Regions from separate parts of the Homo sapiens genome. Here region 1 is linked to region 2. A link means that fine-mapping ties the variant in region 2 to the expression of a gene that starts in the linked region. Tissue or cell type: whole blood. Region 2 holds a variant in brackets; the other region holds the start of a gene. All regions are shown on one strand. Distances are between the middles of the regions.

Evidence for each region. PIP is the estimated chance that this variant, and not a neighbour inherited with it, causes the effect.
Region 1: it holds the start of PNMA3, and the variant in region 2 is fine-mapped to the expression of PNMA3 in whole blood (TOPMed, PIP above 0.99).

The regions. Positions count from the first base shown.
Region 1 is chrX:153,052,979-153,061,153 of GRCh38, forward strand. It overlaps PNMA3 (PNMA family member 3), which reads left to right and starts at 3,492. Exons shown (of 2, transcript NM_013364.6): 1 at 3,492-3,660; 2 at 3,972-7,484. The coding sequence starts at 4,078. The coding sequence ends at 5,469.
Region 2 is chrX:153,026,224-153,034,398 of GRCh38, forward strand. It overlaps the pseudogene LOC112268308. Among named protein-coding and RNA genes, the nearest start is that of PNMA3, 26 kb to the right of the region's middle. The variant G/A (reference allele first, on the strand shown) is at 4,061.

The DNA of each region.
Region 1 (8,175 bases), 27 kb after region 2:
AGGACACTTGTCACATTGGATTAGGGGCCCACACCACTCCAGCTTGATTTCATGTTAACTAAGTACATCTACAATGACCCTATTTTCAAATAAGGTCACATTCTGAGGTGCTAAGGATTAGGACTTCACCATATGAATTGAGGTATGGGGAGACATAATTCAACCCATAACAGTCTTAAATTAAGAGGTGTAATTTCTGTCCATTTGTGTATTTTCCCAGAGAAATTTCTTAAAGTCCAAATAAAAAACTTAATTGGTCCAATAATGATGATTCAGAGGAGCTATTGTTATCTGAGCTTCTATAAAAATTAGCGTGCTTTGGGCTGCAAGTACCAAAAGTGTGACTCAATGCCAGCCATATGAATGAACCATCTTGGGTGCCCAGCCCTGTTGAGTCTTTAGACTTGATTCTCAACTCATATCTCAATGCAACCACATGAGAGATCCCATGAGTGAACTGCCCAGCTAAACCTTCTCTCAATTTCTCACTTACAAAATTGTGAGCAGAATAAAATGGTTGTTTTAAGCCAGTATGTTTTGGGTAGCTGGTTGTGCAGGAATAGTAACTTAATGGGAAGAAATATCCAAAGTAAATAAATAACTCCTATGAAAGAATTAAAAAAGAGAAGCACCCCAGTTGAGAATTGAGACAAAAATAGGAATTTCAATCAAGAGGAATAAAAAATGCCCCCCCAACCAAGGTATTAAATCTAATTCATAATCATAGAAATTCTACATAAAAGCATAATAACAATTGACATTCCTCAGGATTAACAACATTTAAGTCACACAATATGAAATGTTAGTGATGATATGGAGCTTGATGGAAACATAAATTTGTACAGCAACCCAGAAGACAATTTGGCAATGTCTCTGAATACTAAAGATAGTCTTTGATTCAGCAATGCCATGGCTAGGTACATAACTTAGAGGAACTCTCCAAGAATATTTAAAGCAGCATTGTTTCTGATAGTAAAAATGGGAAACAACTTAAATATCTGTCAATGGGAAAATTGATAAATTTTGGTACACACACACACACAATGGAATACTATACAGAAGTGAAAATTGAGGAATAAAATTTGCTTATATCAAAATGGTGATTCTCACAAACAATAATTAGTTAATACAGTGATGACTATGAATAGTATGATATCATTTCTGCCAAGTGTAAAAGAGACAAAGACAATTTTTTAGGGATATAGTCATTTGCAGAAAAAGCACGAAGAAATGCACATGGAGGACAAGAGTGGGAGACAACAGGGAAGGAATCTGCAGGCGCTTACCCTCACTGGCAGTGTTTTATGTCTTCATCCAGTTACTACATTCAGGAGTACTGGATGTACTTTTTAAGTACGTTTTGTATGTTAAATATTGCAGAATGTATTTTATAAAGTATTTAATTACCAGAAACTCTTTAAAAAATTCCCAGGCCTGTTTCAGACTCAGCAGATCAGATTGCAGAGGTGGGGCCCATGAATCTGCCCCTTTTGTGACCCCGATAGTCACTACTGGTCTAAGCCAGGGCAAGGCCACCCCGGTGGAGGTTGCTTCCTTCATGCTGTATTATGTTTTTCACTTTACAAGTAATAATGTTTATCCATCAGTTCCCCAACTTTGGTGCTGCTGTGTTATCTACCATGCAAGGAGATGGGGAAGCAAAAGTAATTAAGACATTTCCACTGGTTTCAAGGGCAAAGGTTAACTCCAATATAAAGGAGTTCTAAAACTTTTCAAATTGGACATATTCACATCTATTGTCTTGATACCAGTGTTTCCAAATCCTTTTTTCCCAATGCCCAGAACATCCACAGATCACTGCGTCTGTCTGGGAACTTCACAGGCTTCTTTCCGGAGACATTCCAGACACGCCCCTCTGCCTTGGCATGAATACTTGGCATCTCCCCTTGACATCTCAAGCTTTGTCATTTACTCACTGTGTGACCTTGGGCCAGTAGTGTCCCTTCTCTGAACCTCTGTTTCCACCCCTGCAAGTTGGGCAGATGAAGGTTCAGTTTGAAGCTGGTTGAGCCCTTGGAGTGACAAAGCAAGGGACTGTGAATGGACAAAAATGAGAGAAATAAATTCTAATAGGCATGAAGCAACCAGGGGAGAAATAGTCCCAATTCTACCCAAAGACTGATGGGCACTAATTTAGAATCCAGTCTCAATTCTACCTTCAATACGGTGTGTGACCTTGAAAATGTCTCTTAATCTCTCTGAGCCTCATGAGTCAAATCAGGATAATGTTAATACCTGCTTCAGAGTTCTGGTGAGGAGCAAATGAAATAACTCCTGTAAAGATGTTTCAGGAATTCTGTCTGACCAGGAAAAAGCCCTTGGGGCCATTTCTTCTTGGTCCCTGACAAGTGCCAGGCTGACGAGCAGAACTCAGGGTGGGGCAGGAAGTCAGTGGACAGTTTTGTGCCCCACTCACTGCAAGGTGGCCTCCCAGACTTGGCTGGATGGGTGAACCTGGCCTGAAAATCAACCACAAGCCCCTTTTCGTTGTGTTTGGAGAGGAGCTGAAGCTGTGTGAATAGGAGTTGAGCATGCGGCTGGCAGAGCAGGCAGGACCCACAGAACACCTGGGCCCACTGCCTGAGGGACAGTCACTCCCTTCTTCATTTGGCTGCTGCCCTGGGATCAAACGGATACAATAGAACCCACGGCGCACGGCTGCCAAGGAAGGGCAGGCCCAAGGGATTGGGCTCCAAGTCCTGGAAGTGGTTTCCCAAGTCACTAGATTTGCAGCGCACAAAACCGGAAAGGTCCCGGTAAACCTGTCCACTGGCACCTGGGCAGCGAAGCGCTTTGGCCGGAGGGCCTCAGGTCCCAGCAGCGGGATGGACAGCGGGGAGATGGCTGACCCTCCTTGGGGTGGTGTGCGTGACCTGCATGAGTGCCTGGGGCATCTCCTGCACGGAATGGCACCCGCACCAGGTGCCCCTGGCCTCGCCAGCCAGAGGACCAGTCCTGGACGGGGAGGGGGAGGACAAGAGCAGGTGAACAGGCCCCAGAACCCGGCTCCCTGACCCTGGCCATAATGCAGAGCTGCCTGGCGCACCTCAGACCACTCCCTGGCCCTCTGGTGGGCACGCCGGGGTGCAGACCCCTCGCCCCGCTGGCACCTCCGTGGCACGTGCGGGAGGGGCAGGAGCCGGGACCAGGAACCGCTGTGGTGAGAGCCAAAGGCACGGGGACTGGCCGCCACAGACCTTTGGCCACCGCAGTGGGGATGGGGGTGGGCGGGCGCTTGTGTGCCCGGGGGCCCGGGGGCCCCCGTGGCGGGGGGGCTAGGGGAGAGGAGCAGGTGACGTCACCCGGGGACCTGGGGCCCCCAGGGGCGGCGGCGAGAGCCCGACCTCGTGACCCGTCCGCGCCAATGGCCCTGCGGTCTCCCGGACGACGCGGAGGGGTCCGCGCTGCACCGCCGCCGCGCCCCCGCCCCGTGTCCGCACTGCAGAGAGCCGCGGCGAGCAGGCGCCGGCGCACTGGCCCACGTGCTGCGCGAGCGAGGGAGAGCCACAGTCTGAGCGAACGTCCGCGCTGGGAGCCAGGGGTGCCCGACCCCCGTCCGCCGCCGCCGCCGCCGCCGCGCATAGCCCCCGGAGAGCCCTCTGGGGACCCCGACCAGAAGGGACCTTGCCCTGGGAGAAGGTAACAGACCCACCTGGGGAGGGAGACGCTGGGCCCCGGGAGACTCCGCCGCCCCTCGCCTGTCCGCCCTATCAGAACTGAAGCAGCCTGCAGGGCAGGGGTCCAGGGTCCTGGGGCAGCGCGGGGAGGGGGCTGAGGCCCGCAGAGACCCCACGGGGGGTGGGGGTGGGGGGCTGGGCAGGGGCGGGGCCTGGCTGCAGAGGCGCCGCCCGGGGAGGAGGGCGGCTGGGGGTGGGGGTGGGGGTGGGCGTGGATGTGGGCGTGCGGAGAGGTGGGCATTAACCTCGCTCTCGCCCTGCTCGCATTCACAGGCTGTGGAGACCTGGGCCTTCTGCGATCACCCTAGGAGTTGATCCAGATATGTGCCTCACGCCCTGATCACTCCCCCCAAATTAGTATCCGCAGAGATTCGAGGACATGCCGTTGACCTTGTTACAGGACTGGTGTCGGGGGGAACACCTGAACACCCGGAGGTGCATGCTCATCCTGGGGATCCCCGAGGACTGTGGCGAGGATGAGTTTGAGGAGACACTCCAGGAGGCTTGCAGGCACCTGGGCAGATACAGGGTGATTGGCAGGATGTTTAGGAGGGAGGAGAACGCCCAGGCGATTCTACTGGAGCTGGCACAAGATATCGACTATGCTTTGCTCCCAAGGGAAATACCAGGAAAGGGGGGGCCCTGGGAAGTGATTGTAAAACCCCGTAACTCAGATGGGGAATTTCTCAACAGACTGAACCGCTTCTTAGAGGAGGAGAGGCGGACCGTGTCAGATATGAACCGAGTCCTCGGGTCGGACACCAATTGTTCGGCTCCAAGAGTGACTATATCACCAGAGTTCTGGACCTGGGCCCAGACTCTGGGGGCAGCAGTGCAGCCTCTGCTAGAACAAATGTTGTACCGAGAACTAAGAGTGTTTTCTGGGAACACCATATCCATCCCAGGTGCACTGGCCTTTGATGCCTGGCTTGAGCACACCACTGAGATGCTACAGATGTGGCAGGTGCCCGAGGGGGAAAAGAGGCGGAGGCTGATGGAATGCTTACGGGGCCCTGCTCTCCAGGTGGTCAGTGGGCTCCGGGCCAGCAATGCTTCCATAACTGTGGAGGAGTGCCTGGCTGCCTTGCAGCAGGTGTTCGGACCTGTGGAGAGCCATAAAATTGCCCAGGTGAAGTTGTGTAAAGCCTATCAGGAGGCAGGAGAGAAAGTATCTAGCTTTGTGTTACGTTTGGAACCCCTGCTCCAAAGAGCTGTAGAAAACAATGTGGTATCACGTAGAAACGTGAATCAGACTCGCCTGAAACGAGTCTTAAGTGGGGCCACCCTTCCTGACAAACTCCGAGATAAGCTTAAGCTGATGAAACAGCGAAGGAAGCCTCCTGGTTTCCTGGCCCTGGTGAAGCTCCTGCGTGAGGAGGAGGAATGGGAGGCCACTTTAGGTCCAGATAGGGAGAGTCTGGAGGGGCTGGAAGTAGCCCCAAGGCCACCTGCCAGGATCACTGGGGTTGGGGCAGTACCTCTCCCTGCCTCTGGCAACAGTTTTGATGCGAGGCCTTCCCAGGGCTACCGGCGCCGGAGGGGCAGAGGCCAACACCGAAGGGGTGGTGTGGCAAGGGCTGGCTCTCGAGGCTCAAGAAAACGGAAACGCCACACATTCTGCTATAGCTGTGGGGAAGACGGCCACATCAGGGTACAGTGCATCAACCCCTCCAACCTGCTCTTGGTAAAGCAGAAGAAACAGGCTGCAGTTGAGTCGGGAAACGGGAACTGGGCTTGGGACAAGAGCCATCCCAAGTCCAAGGCCAAGTAGGCTCGGGAGAACAGGGCAACATTTCCTACCACAGGCCAAGGAGACAAAAGAGATATTGGAAGGAGGGGAAAGAGAAGCCCAGACAAACAGCAGATGAGTTGAGTGGGGCAGAGGGACAGGGCAGCCAGACCAAGGCCAAGCCTTCTCACCCTTGGCCAGCTGGAAGGGACTTCAGCAACCAAGACCACCTGGCAACAGGCTCAGTGGGGGTCAGGTCCAGGTCCCCGAAGAGGTGCTGGAGAGGAAAGCAGGGAGCCACTGCATCCAGCACATGGGGTGCCTGGGCCTCAGATGGGGACCCCAAAGAAGCAGAAGCTGAAGAAGGTACGGCTGGGGGTTCTGTCCTGCTCATCCAACCACCCCTAAATACCCACCCTGTGGACTTTGAGCTGAACATGCCCACTGGCCCCCAGGCCACATGGGACCTGGAGGAGCCTACCTGGGGCCTGCCCCTGCCAGCAGGTGCCAGGGCTGGTGAGGAAGAGCTGGGGGGCAGAGGTAAAGCCCTGCAGGGGAGGCCACAGGGTCCATCCCGTCTTCAGGATCATCTACACTGCACTAGGGGAGCCCCAGGAAGGCAGCACCCTGGAGGCCCTGTGCCAGTGAGGACAGGAGACCCTAAGGCCCCGGGAGCCCAGTGCCAGCCAGAGGTTGTGCAGGCAAGGAGACCAAAGATTGATGAGAAGACCCCCAGCAGGGGTACTGGGTACCCGGCAGGCCAGTGCCCTCACAGTTGACTTGGACCAGGGTGGCTGTGAAGGGAAGTCTTTGTTGCAAAGGAGGAGGAAAAGGGAGGACTTGGTAGGGTTTTGTTTCTTCTGCTTGTTTCTGTACAGGGCCACCAGACTCCTGGAGAGATCAAGCAAGGAGAACCTGGGGCTGCCATGGCCAAAGCAACTCAACAGATGCCAATGCCAATTCCAAGGCCAGCCACAACCCTGCCACCTTGGGGAATCCAGCCTGGAGGCATCCCCTAAGCAGCCAGCCATGGCCTGGGTGGAGGCACCTGAAGACGTCTGTCCCAAACTCCCCCAGCCCTGAGCTGGGAGATGACAGGGGGAAAGAGGCCCTCTCAAGGGTGCCAGATGCCTGGGTCTCCCAAGAGGGGTCCCCCAACTCACTGTTCCCGGGACAGGCTGCCCCCTGTTCCAGGAAGCTCATCCTCACCTGTGTAGGCCCCTGTAGTGACCCACGCGTCCAGCAGACGCCCACCCACCGCTAGCCGTTGTTCCTGTGCAAAGTAGTGTGCTATGCACCCACCCAGGTGGCCGCCTCTGGGCCCAAGGCACATGCTGTGAGCTTCCTGTGAGCCCAGGCTCTGCTCACTGCTGTCCCGCGTCATGAGCACCACCTCTGCTTTCCCTGTGTAGATCTAGGCCAGTGGCTGCTTGTTCTTGTGGAGCTGTGTGTGTTCTTCTCTGAGCAGCTCCTCCCCGGAGTCCCCCAGCACAGTCCCAGGAGATGACAGGAAGGAAGCACCAGGGCAAGGCGGACGCTCACCCTGTGACCACGATGGTGACCGTGACTGTGGGAGGAAGAACTGGACCCAGGACGGAGCGGGGCTGCCCTGCCTGAGGCTCCCGAGGAGCTTTGTGCTTTGGTGTTCCACCCCTGTTGTTACTCATGACTCAGTTTCCTTAACCTGGTAGGGTGTTCCCTGCTGTGTTTTCCAGTGTCCTGTGACTGTCCTGTGCGGGCCATAGGGCAGGGCCCTGCCCCAGCAGATGGGCTTGGGAGGGGACTCCCTAAAGCCAGTGGACACTGCCAGAGTCTACCTTCCTGGCAAGAGGCAGACCCCGGGGCCCTCAGGAAGGAGGGAGTTGGCAGCGGGGGCTGCAGCAGGAGTAGGAGCAGATGAGGCGTCTTGCCAGGAACCTCAGGAGGAGGGGGCCCGGGACCTGTGTGGGACCTGTGTCCTGTGGTGGCCGTTTGCAGTTTCTCTCTGTGTTGTGATTCCCTTCTCTTCAACGTTTTCAGTACGTGTTTCTCTTCAATAAACTTCATTCAGTGTTCCAGCCGGCCTCGCCTCTGCTGTGGGAAACTGGGGATGAGGTTGGCTGGGCATGGGGTTGGGGTGGAGTGAGGGCCACAGTGGCTTTGTTAACACTGGTGTATACTTGGGGCTCGGTCTGCAAGGCATTCTAGAATGCCCTATCTGCGCATGTTGGTCATGAGCTAGGGTTCACGGCCCACGGACCCAGGCAAAGAAACCCAGCTGAGCAGGCTGGATAGTCCCAGTAGACAGGACACTGGTAGGCCCAGGCAGTGGCTGGTTGGGTCCTCAGGGCACTGGTTGAGCTTCTCAGAAATGAATAACATATTTAAGGAAGGGTGAGGGACAGCAGGCTGGACCAGTGGCCCCAGGATCCCTTGTATCACTATTGGGCTTCCACACCTGGAGCATCAAAACCAGGCCCATCTCTGTGAGTGTGTGTGAGATGGTGAATATGTGTGAGTATGCGTACTAGTGATTGTGTGAGAGTGAGTGTAGGAGAGTTTGTGTGTGTCATGTGTCAGCGAATGTGTGAATATGTGAGTGTGTGAGATGGTGTGTGAATATGTTAATGTGTGTTTGTATTTGAGTGTGAGTATGCATCAGTTTTTGTGTGTGAGTGAATGTGTGTTAGTGGTCAAATGTATGTTTATGTGTTTAATGTATATGTGTGTTAGTAAAAGTATGTGAATATGTGAGAGTGAGACGGTGTG
Region 2 (8,175 bases):
TTACAAATGGAGAACCAGGGACATTAAAAAATCAATCCCAACACTTTGGGAGGTCAAGGCAGGCCAATCACGAGGTCAGGAGATCGAGACCATCCTGACTAACACGGTGAAAACCTGTCTCTACTAAAAATGCAAAAAATTAGCTAGGCGTGGTGGCACGCACCTGTAGTCCCAGCTACTCGGGAGGCTGAGGCAGGAGAATCGCTTGAACCCAGGAGGCGGAGCTTGCAGTGAGCCGAAATCACGCCACTGCACTCCAGCCTGGGTGACAGAGCAAGACTCCATCTCTCTCTCTCTCTCTCCCTCCCTCTCTCCCTCTCTCTCTCTACTCTCTCTCTCTCTCTCTATATATATATAGAGAGAGATTTATATATATATTTTTATATACGTATATATATGTGTGTGTATATATATGTGTATATATATGTGTATATGTGTGTATATGTATATGTATATATATGTGTGTATATATATGTGTATATATATGTGTATATGTGTGTATATGTATATGTATATATATGTGTGTATATATATGTGTATATATATGTGTATATGTGTGTATATGTATATGTATATATGTGTGTATATATATATAAATCTACTACAAGAGTTCACAGGCAAGTCCCTCACCTACACTTTGTCACATGTGGTCTGCTTCTGCCCCTCGTACCCTTACTCTCTTACTCTTCCTGTTGTTCCTATTGGTGGCTGGGGAAGTGACGTGAGGGCAGTGGTGCCTGTGCAGCAGTGCTCAAGGATGCATCAAGGGTTCACTCTCAGGAAACTCCCAAAGCTGCTGGCCAGATGGGTAGCCAGTCCTAGACATGGCAGAGACTGGCTGAGTTTCCCAAATGCCTCTCTTGACCAAGGCCTGCAGAAACAGAAAGTCATATTTTCACATTGGCCAATCCTTGCATTCCTCAGGAAAATGGTTCCAATGTTCCCACTCACATCCTGCTTTTTCTCAGAGCTCAGACCTGGGACCACTGAGCTGGCTGCCACAACCAGCCTCCAATACCCACACCATTCTTGGCCACACCACCCTTTTTCATTCCTGTGCCCTTGTGGTTATTTACTGAAGGCTTACCGTGTGTCTAATAGAAGGTAAAGCTCCATGACTCCCCTGCAAGAAAAATGTTCTTATTGCTCATTTACAGATGAGAAACAGAGATGTTCAGTGGTTTGTGCAAAGCCACCCAGCTGCTAGGTGAAGCCAGCTTTGCCTGCTTCCAAAGGCCGTACACACTCTTTCCAATGCAATGGCTTCCTAGGTGGTGAAGGCTGGCTTTGTAGCCTAAGAACTATGATGAGGCTCTTGAGTCAGGAACAGCTAGCCTCTTCCTGTTGTGGAGATTCCTGCAATGAGGAGGTAGGCCTGTGAATGTAGTGATTTGGGGGACCTAGTCTGGAGTCCTAGTACCTGGCTGTCCACCAACTCCCAGCTTCCAGACGCTGCCCCTAAGCATAAGCTTCCTCTCTGCCAGTTTCCAATCCCCTTTCTCTCTCAACACTTCCACTAGGCCATTTTGATGGTTGGGCCTGTTGCCCCCGGAGGCACATCAAGCCCTTACCGCGCAGGTCCCGATCCCAGGGCAACACGGATGCCTCCCCCTGTTTAGCTATTTGCCTCCCACAGAGACTCTGAGATTTTTCTCCCTCATCTATCTGAGGCTTCTGGGAGAAGTTGGAAGCCCACGTGCCCTTAGTACAGCTGGCCTGAGATATCCCTGCCCTGTGCAGTCCCAGATGGGCTGCTGGGGCGCGATCTTCCACCTTCCCATTCCAGGGCCTCAAGGCGGCCTCCAGAGTGGGCTCCACAGCCTGAAGGTGGCATTTCCCCGTGGGTGGTTGCAGTGTCTGCAGACAGTGAGCAGGCACCAGCGGGACCCCAGAGTGGCTGAGGGCACACTGGGCAGGAGCCAGATCGCTGTCCCCCCAGGCAGTAGGTGCGACAGCGGGTCCTGGTCTGGAGCCTGAGGAGAGGGGAGGAGGGTCTCCTTGCTGCAGGAGTCTGGGTGGGGTGAGCTCCTGGCTGCAGGGCACCTCTGGCTACAGAAGGGGACGATGGGAGAGAGAGGGGCTCTGGCTGTGGGGGAAGGGGACTCCTGGCTGCTGATGTGGGAGGCGTGGGAGGGGGTTGCCAGGTTGCAGGGAGGATGGCATTAGGGAGAGGGCTCCTGGTCAAGTGCTGGGAAAAAGAGGAGGTGGGCACATCCAGCTGCAGGGTTGCACATGATGGTTGGAGGGGCTCCAGCTGTAAGTTTTGTGATCAGGGGCTGTTCACCAGGTGAAAGAGGCGCTTCCTGCTGTGGAGGTGGGGGGTGCAGTGAAGGACTCTGAGCTGCAGCAGTAGGGGTGGGGGAGCATGGGCTGTGACACTGGGCAGGGGAGATGCTTCAGGCCCTGCATTTGGGAGTGGCTGGTCTCTGGCTGTGCGGTGGGGGTGGGCTGACTGGCAGCAACGTCCCTCTCTCCCCTTTGCACTCACAGGCTGCGTCAGAGACTGCAACAGTCAGCACACATTCCTGTCTGATCAGGCTCCCTCCCTCAAGTCCTCTGCGATGGCTCTGGCGATGCTTCGGGACTGGTGCAGGAGGATGGGTGTGAACGCAGAGCGCTCTCTGCTCATCCTGGATATCCCTGACGACTGCGAGGAACATGAGTTCCAGGAGGCCGTGCGGGCTGCCCTGTCGCCCCTGGGCAGGTACCGAGTGCTCATCAAGGTCTTCAGAAAGGAGCTCGGGGCCAGGGCAGCCTTGGTGGAATTCGCTGAGGGTTTAAACCAAAGCTTGATTCCCCGCCAAATAGCAGGCAAAGGGGGACCCTGGAAAGTGATCTCCCTGCCCCAGGCCCTTGATGCTGAGTTTCAGGATATACCCAGTTTCCCTGCATAGCCCCAGGGGCAAGCAGTGGCCAGAGGTGCAGGTGAGGCAGGAGCTGCAGGTGAGGCAGGATCTGTAGGTGAGGCAGGAGGTGTGAATGAGGAAAGATCTGCAGGTGAGGCAGGAGCTGCAGGTGAGGAAGAAGAGGCAGGTGATGGAGGAGCTGCAGGTGCAGCAGGAGCCATAGGTGAAACAGGAGCTGTGGGTAAGGGTGAGGCAGAAGCCACAGGTGAGGGAGGATCTGCAAGTGAGGCAGAAGGTGCAGGTGAGGGAGGAGCTGGAGATGAGTTGAGAGTTGCAGAAGAGGCAAGAGAGTCAGATGAGGGAGCCGCAGGTGATACAGGACCTGCAGGTGAGGCAGGAGCTGTGGGTGAGGCAGGAGCTGTGGGTGAGGCAGGAGCTGCGGGTGAGGCAGGAGCTGTGGGTGAGGCAAGAGGGACAAATGTAACAAGAGCCTGGGTCCAGCCTCGGCGCTGCACCCTGCAGGCTGTGCTGGAAAACAGGGCCTACCAGGAACTGAGACCCTTTTCAGGGAGGGAGCAGCCAGGCTGCGAGGAAGAGTCCTTTGAGAGCTGGATGGAGCACGCCAAGGATATGCTGCAGCTGTGGTACCATGCGTCGGAAAGGGAGAGGAAGAGATGGCTGCTGGAGAGCTTGGGTGGCCCAGCCCTGGACGTTGTGAGCGGCCTCCTAGAGGAAGATCCCAACTTGGCGGCACTGGACTGCCAGGCGCTGCTGGACTGCTGGGCAGCGGTGCTGGGGCAGGCGTTTGGAAACCGGGACCCTCGAATGACTTCCAGGCTGAAGTTCCTGACCTGAACGCAGGGGCCCTTTGCCTTCCTGGTATGCCTGGAAGGCCTGCTGCAGATGGCCCTGGAGAAGGGGGCCGTCTGCCCGGCCCTGGCCAACCACCTGTGACTGCGGTAGGTGCAGCCTCAGGCCTGCCCTGGCGAAGCACTCCAGAATACCCTGAGGGGGATGCACTGGAGAGGAGGCCGCCCTACTTCCTGGGGCTGCTTCAGCTCATCCAGGAGATGGAGGCGTGGGCGGCCTCCCCAGTGAGGAGCCAGCATGTTGTGGCCTGGCCAGTGGCCACAGTGGAAAGTGAAGATCCAGTTGCCGCCCAGGCAGCTCCTGCCTGTGGAGATGCTGCTCAGGCCTCCTCAGCCCAGGAAGAC[G/A]CCAGCCAGGCTGACCCTGGCGTGGAAGATGCTGCTGAGACTGCTCCTGCCACCAAAGAGGCCGCCAGGAGCACCCCTGCCATTAGGGAAGGTGAAAATGCCCCTGCAGGCCTCGAAGGAGCCAGAGGGTCTTGTCCAGGCAGGAGGCCAGGAGGCTGAGGAGCCCCCCGACCCAAGGGGGTCTTATGTTCATACTGGAGGAGTTGGAAAATGAGGATGGGGCCAGGAAGGTTGGTCAGCCCAAATCCTCCCCAGGCAAATAGGCTCAGAGGGCCCCAGGGCCTCCTCTCCTCTCAGGCCGCAGCATCCTGGAGGCAGTGGGGAGGCCAGGCCAGGGCTGGTCCCTCATCCCACATCAGGATCGGGGCCCCCCACCTCCCTCCAAAGGGCCCTGGCCACCACCATCAGCCCTTCCCGGTGACCCAGATGACCACGTTGATACCAAATGGGGTTGGGGGAGGCACCCCTGCTTTGCACCCAGTGCTGCACCCAGCCCCAGCCCCAAACCCTGCCGTCTCTGGGGGGCTGGCCAGGAGGGAGCCCTGAGTGGCCAGCTGCGACCTGGGTGGGGGCACCTGAAGATGTCTGTCCCCCACCCCTTGTCCTGGGTTGGGAGAGACAGGGGAAAGAGGTCCTCTCAAGGGTGCCAGCTGCCTGGGTCTCCCAAGAGGGTTGCCCCATTTGCCGTCCCCGGGGCAGGCTGCCCCCTGTTCTGGGAAGCCCACCCTCACCTGTTTAGGCCCCGTAGTGACCCACGCGCCCAGCAGACGCCCACCCACTGCTAGCTGTCGTTCCTGTGCAAAGTTGTGTGTTGTGCACCCACCCGGGCGGCCGCCACTAGGCCCGGGGCATGTGCTGTGAGCTTCCTGTGAGCCCAGGTTCTGCTCACTGCTGTCTGTCCTGCATCTTAAACACCACCTCTGCTTTCCTGGTGTAGATCTAGGCCAGTGGCTGCTTGTTCTCGTGGAGCTGTGTGTGTTCTTCTCTGAGCTGCTCCTCCCCGGAGGCCCCCAGCACAGACCCAGGAGATGGCGGGAAGGAGGAACCAGGGCGCGGCCAATGCTCACCCTGTGACCACGATGGTAACCATGACTGTGGGAGGAAGAGCCGGACCCGGGACGGAGTGGGGCTGCCCTGCCTGAGGCTCCCAGGAGAGCTTTATGCTTTGGCATTCCACCCCTGTTGTTACTTGTGACTGTTTCCTCGACCTGGTGGGCTGTTCCCTGCTGTGTTTACTGGTGTCCTGTGACTGTCTGTGATGACTATAGGGCAGGGCCCTGCCCCAGCAGATGGGCTTGGGAGGGGGCTCCCTGAAGCCGGTGGACACTGCCAGAGTCCACGTCCTGGCAAGAGGCGGGCCCTGGGGCCCTCGGGAAGGAGGGAGGTAGCAGTGGGGTCGGCAGCAGGACGGGGGTAGACGAGGCGCCTTGCCAGGAACCCCAGGAGGAGGGATCCTAGGACCTGTGTCCTGTAGTGGCTGTTTGCAGTTTCTCTCTGTGTTGTGGTTCCCTTCTTTTCAGTGATTTCGGTACACGTTTCTCTTCAATAAATTTCATTCCATTTTCCAGCCGGTCTCGCCTCTGCTGTGGGAAACTAGTGGGAAAGGTCTCTTTGGGATAAAATGGAAGTTGGGGGACAACAGTGGCCTGGAATTCTGACCCTATTGTGCTCACTGGGATACGGTCAGGGCATAGTAGGCCAGCGATTGTAGAGAATGACCTAACTGCGATGGTGGTTCCAACCCAGAGTCAGTGGCTTATGAGGATGAGGAAAGAAACCAAGCTGAACATGCTGGATGGTGCCAGTTGACGGAACACTGCCGTGCGAGGGCAATGTGTGGCTTGCTCCCCAGGGCATGCATGGAGGCTCCCAGAACGAAGTGCATAAGACGTGGAAGGGCAGGCAGGGGACAGCAGGCTGGGGCGGAGGCCTGGGTTGAAGCTCTAGCATAGACATCTTTTTAACTGTTCCTCAGTTCCTCATGTTTATCCTGTGTGTGGAGCTTTCACCATCTCTTTGGAAAGACAGAAGAGATGGATAAGGAAAAGGAGTAGAACAGAGCGGCACCCCTTGCCTTCCCCAGAGTCTGGGTAGCGGGCGCAGGACGTGTCGCCTGTCCAAATGCGCAACTTTCACCAGTGTACGCTACGCGTGCGCGCCTGTGCACCTTGACGAGCACGCAGCCGTCATGAGTGCGCCTGGGCACGCCGCCATTTCCTGCAGCCGCGACAGCACGGTCGTATATTTCCGGTTGTCATTTTATTCTTTTTGAGAAATGGTCTCGCTCTGTTGCCCAGGGTGGAGTGTAGTGGCGCTGTCATAGCTCACTGCAACCCCGACCTCCTGGGCTCAAGCGATTCTCCCGCCTCAGCCTCCCGACTAGCTGGGACCACAGGCGTGCAACCACCATACCCGGAACCACAGTCACAGTCGGTCGCAGTGCCCGCTGGGAAAATGCGACCGTCCACAAAGCGAAACGGCCATCGGGGCGAGTTCGGCCTCGGCGGGGATTCTCCTGAGGTCACGCCCGCTCTGGCCGCCAGAGGACGCCCGAGGATCACGAATGGGCCCGAGGAGCTGGCTGCCCCTTCCCACGCTCAAGGTCTGCAGCCGTGGCCAGAGTGGCCTTGGGGTGACCGCGCGTGGACCGTCGCCGGCGGGAGGGAGCGCGGTCCCGCGGGGGCCGAACGGGGCTCCTGTGGCCTGAGCTTGTTTCGCAGGGAGCCCTGGCGGCCATGGCTCTGGGACACCAGACAACGGTCGTCAGGGCTGTCCAGGGTAAGGGGGTGTGGACGTGCAGACAGGGAGGGCAGCTGGACCCTCCAACCATGCTGGGCCCTTGGGCTGACCGGGGCTCGTCTGTGGGGCTCAGTGAGGAGGGACTTTGTTCCCTAGGAGTTTGATGAGGGAGCGCCATGGGGGTGGCGTCATCCTGACATCCTGCAGGGCAGTGGAGCCTTACTTTCCCTAGCCCCAGAGATCATGAAGTCTCTCTTTGTTTAAAGGTAGAAACCAAGGACAAGAGATTGGTGGGAACTGCTCTGGTTACAAAATTGCAGAACCAGACTTCTTAATTCTGGGACCCGTGCTGCTTTCATTACACTCTACCGCTTCCAGTTTGTGATGTGCTCCTTCTGTCAACAGTTAGCAAGCCTGCTGGCTCTGTTGCTCTGGCATGAGTCCAAAGGTGAAGGATGGGGGGCTGATGCATTTTGATACTCAAAATGTCTCCTAAACTGTCCAGTATGGTATACCATCTCCTGCCTCCTTGATGCTTGTGATGGCACCCCAAACAGTATATTTGGAAATCTAACATTCTTACTCCTGCCTGGACAGGCCCTCAGTATCATTCAACGAAAGCTCAATTATTACACAGGGAGTGACAGCACAGTTGTGACTTTCCCATTGTCATTTTTTTTTTTTTTGACACAGTCTTGCTCTGTTGCCCAGTCTGGTCTATGTCCACAGTATCTTCCTGGTCTGCTTATACGAAGTCAAGCAATTTCTGTGCTGGCATGGGTTCCAAGCACCTGAGAAAGCCCAATGTCATCTCTTTTCACAGTGGTTTTGTCTTTTGGCCGTACTTTATATTCCTTCTAGCATATAACCCCTTCCTGACTGAAGGCCAGGCAGAGCACGGGCCACTTTAAAGTTTAACTTTCAAGTAACTAAGATCCTCCCTTTCCCAGAGCAGCAGCAGTGCTTGGAGAAGCACCTGCCTCAGTCTTTATTCTCCCTAGAAACTGACCTTTCCTTTTCCCATTGTAACTTACCTCTGAGCAAGTTGGCAAAAAAGCCTGCATGCTCCCTTCTTTGCTGCATGAAGGAAATTCAAACCATGCAATTTCCTGTCTCCATGTGGGAATTCTCATCTTGGCCCCCCACTTCTAACCTCAGTGAAAACCTAGGCCACTCTCCTTCCTTTGCTTCCAGAAGCCATTTTGGAATTGCTGGAGATGACTGCTCCCCTCTCCTGAAAACCCTCAATTACATAAGTAGTGAAACTTTTCTTGTCCTCTTGGTGTGTATGTGGTGTCATCAGTCTTAACATCCTAGCCAATTTTTGAGTGGGGATCTATCTGCCTCTGAAGGTGACCTTAAAAACAATTTTGCAG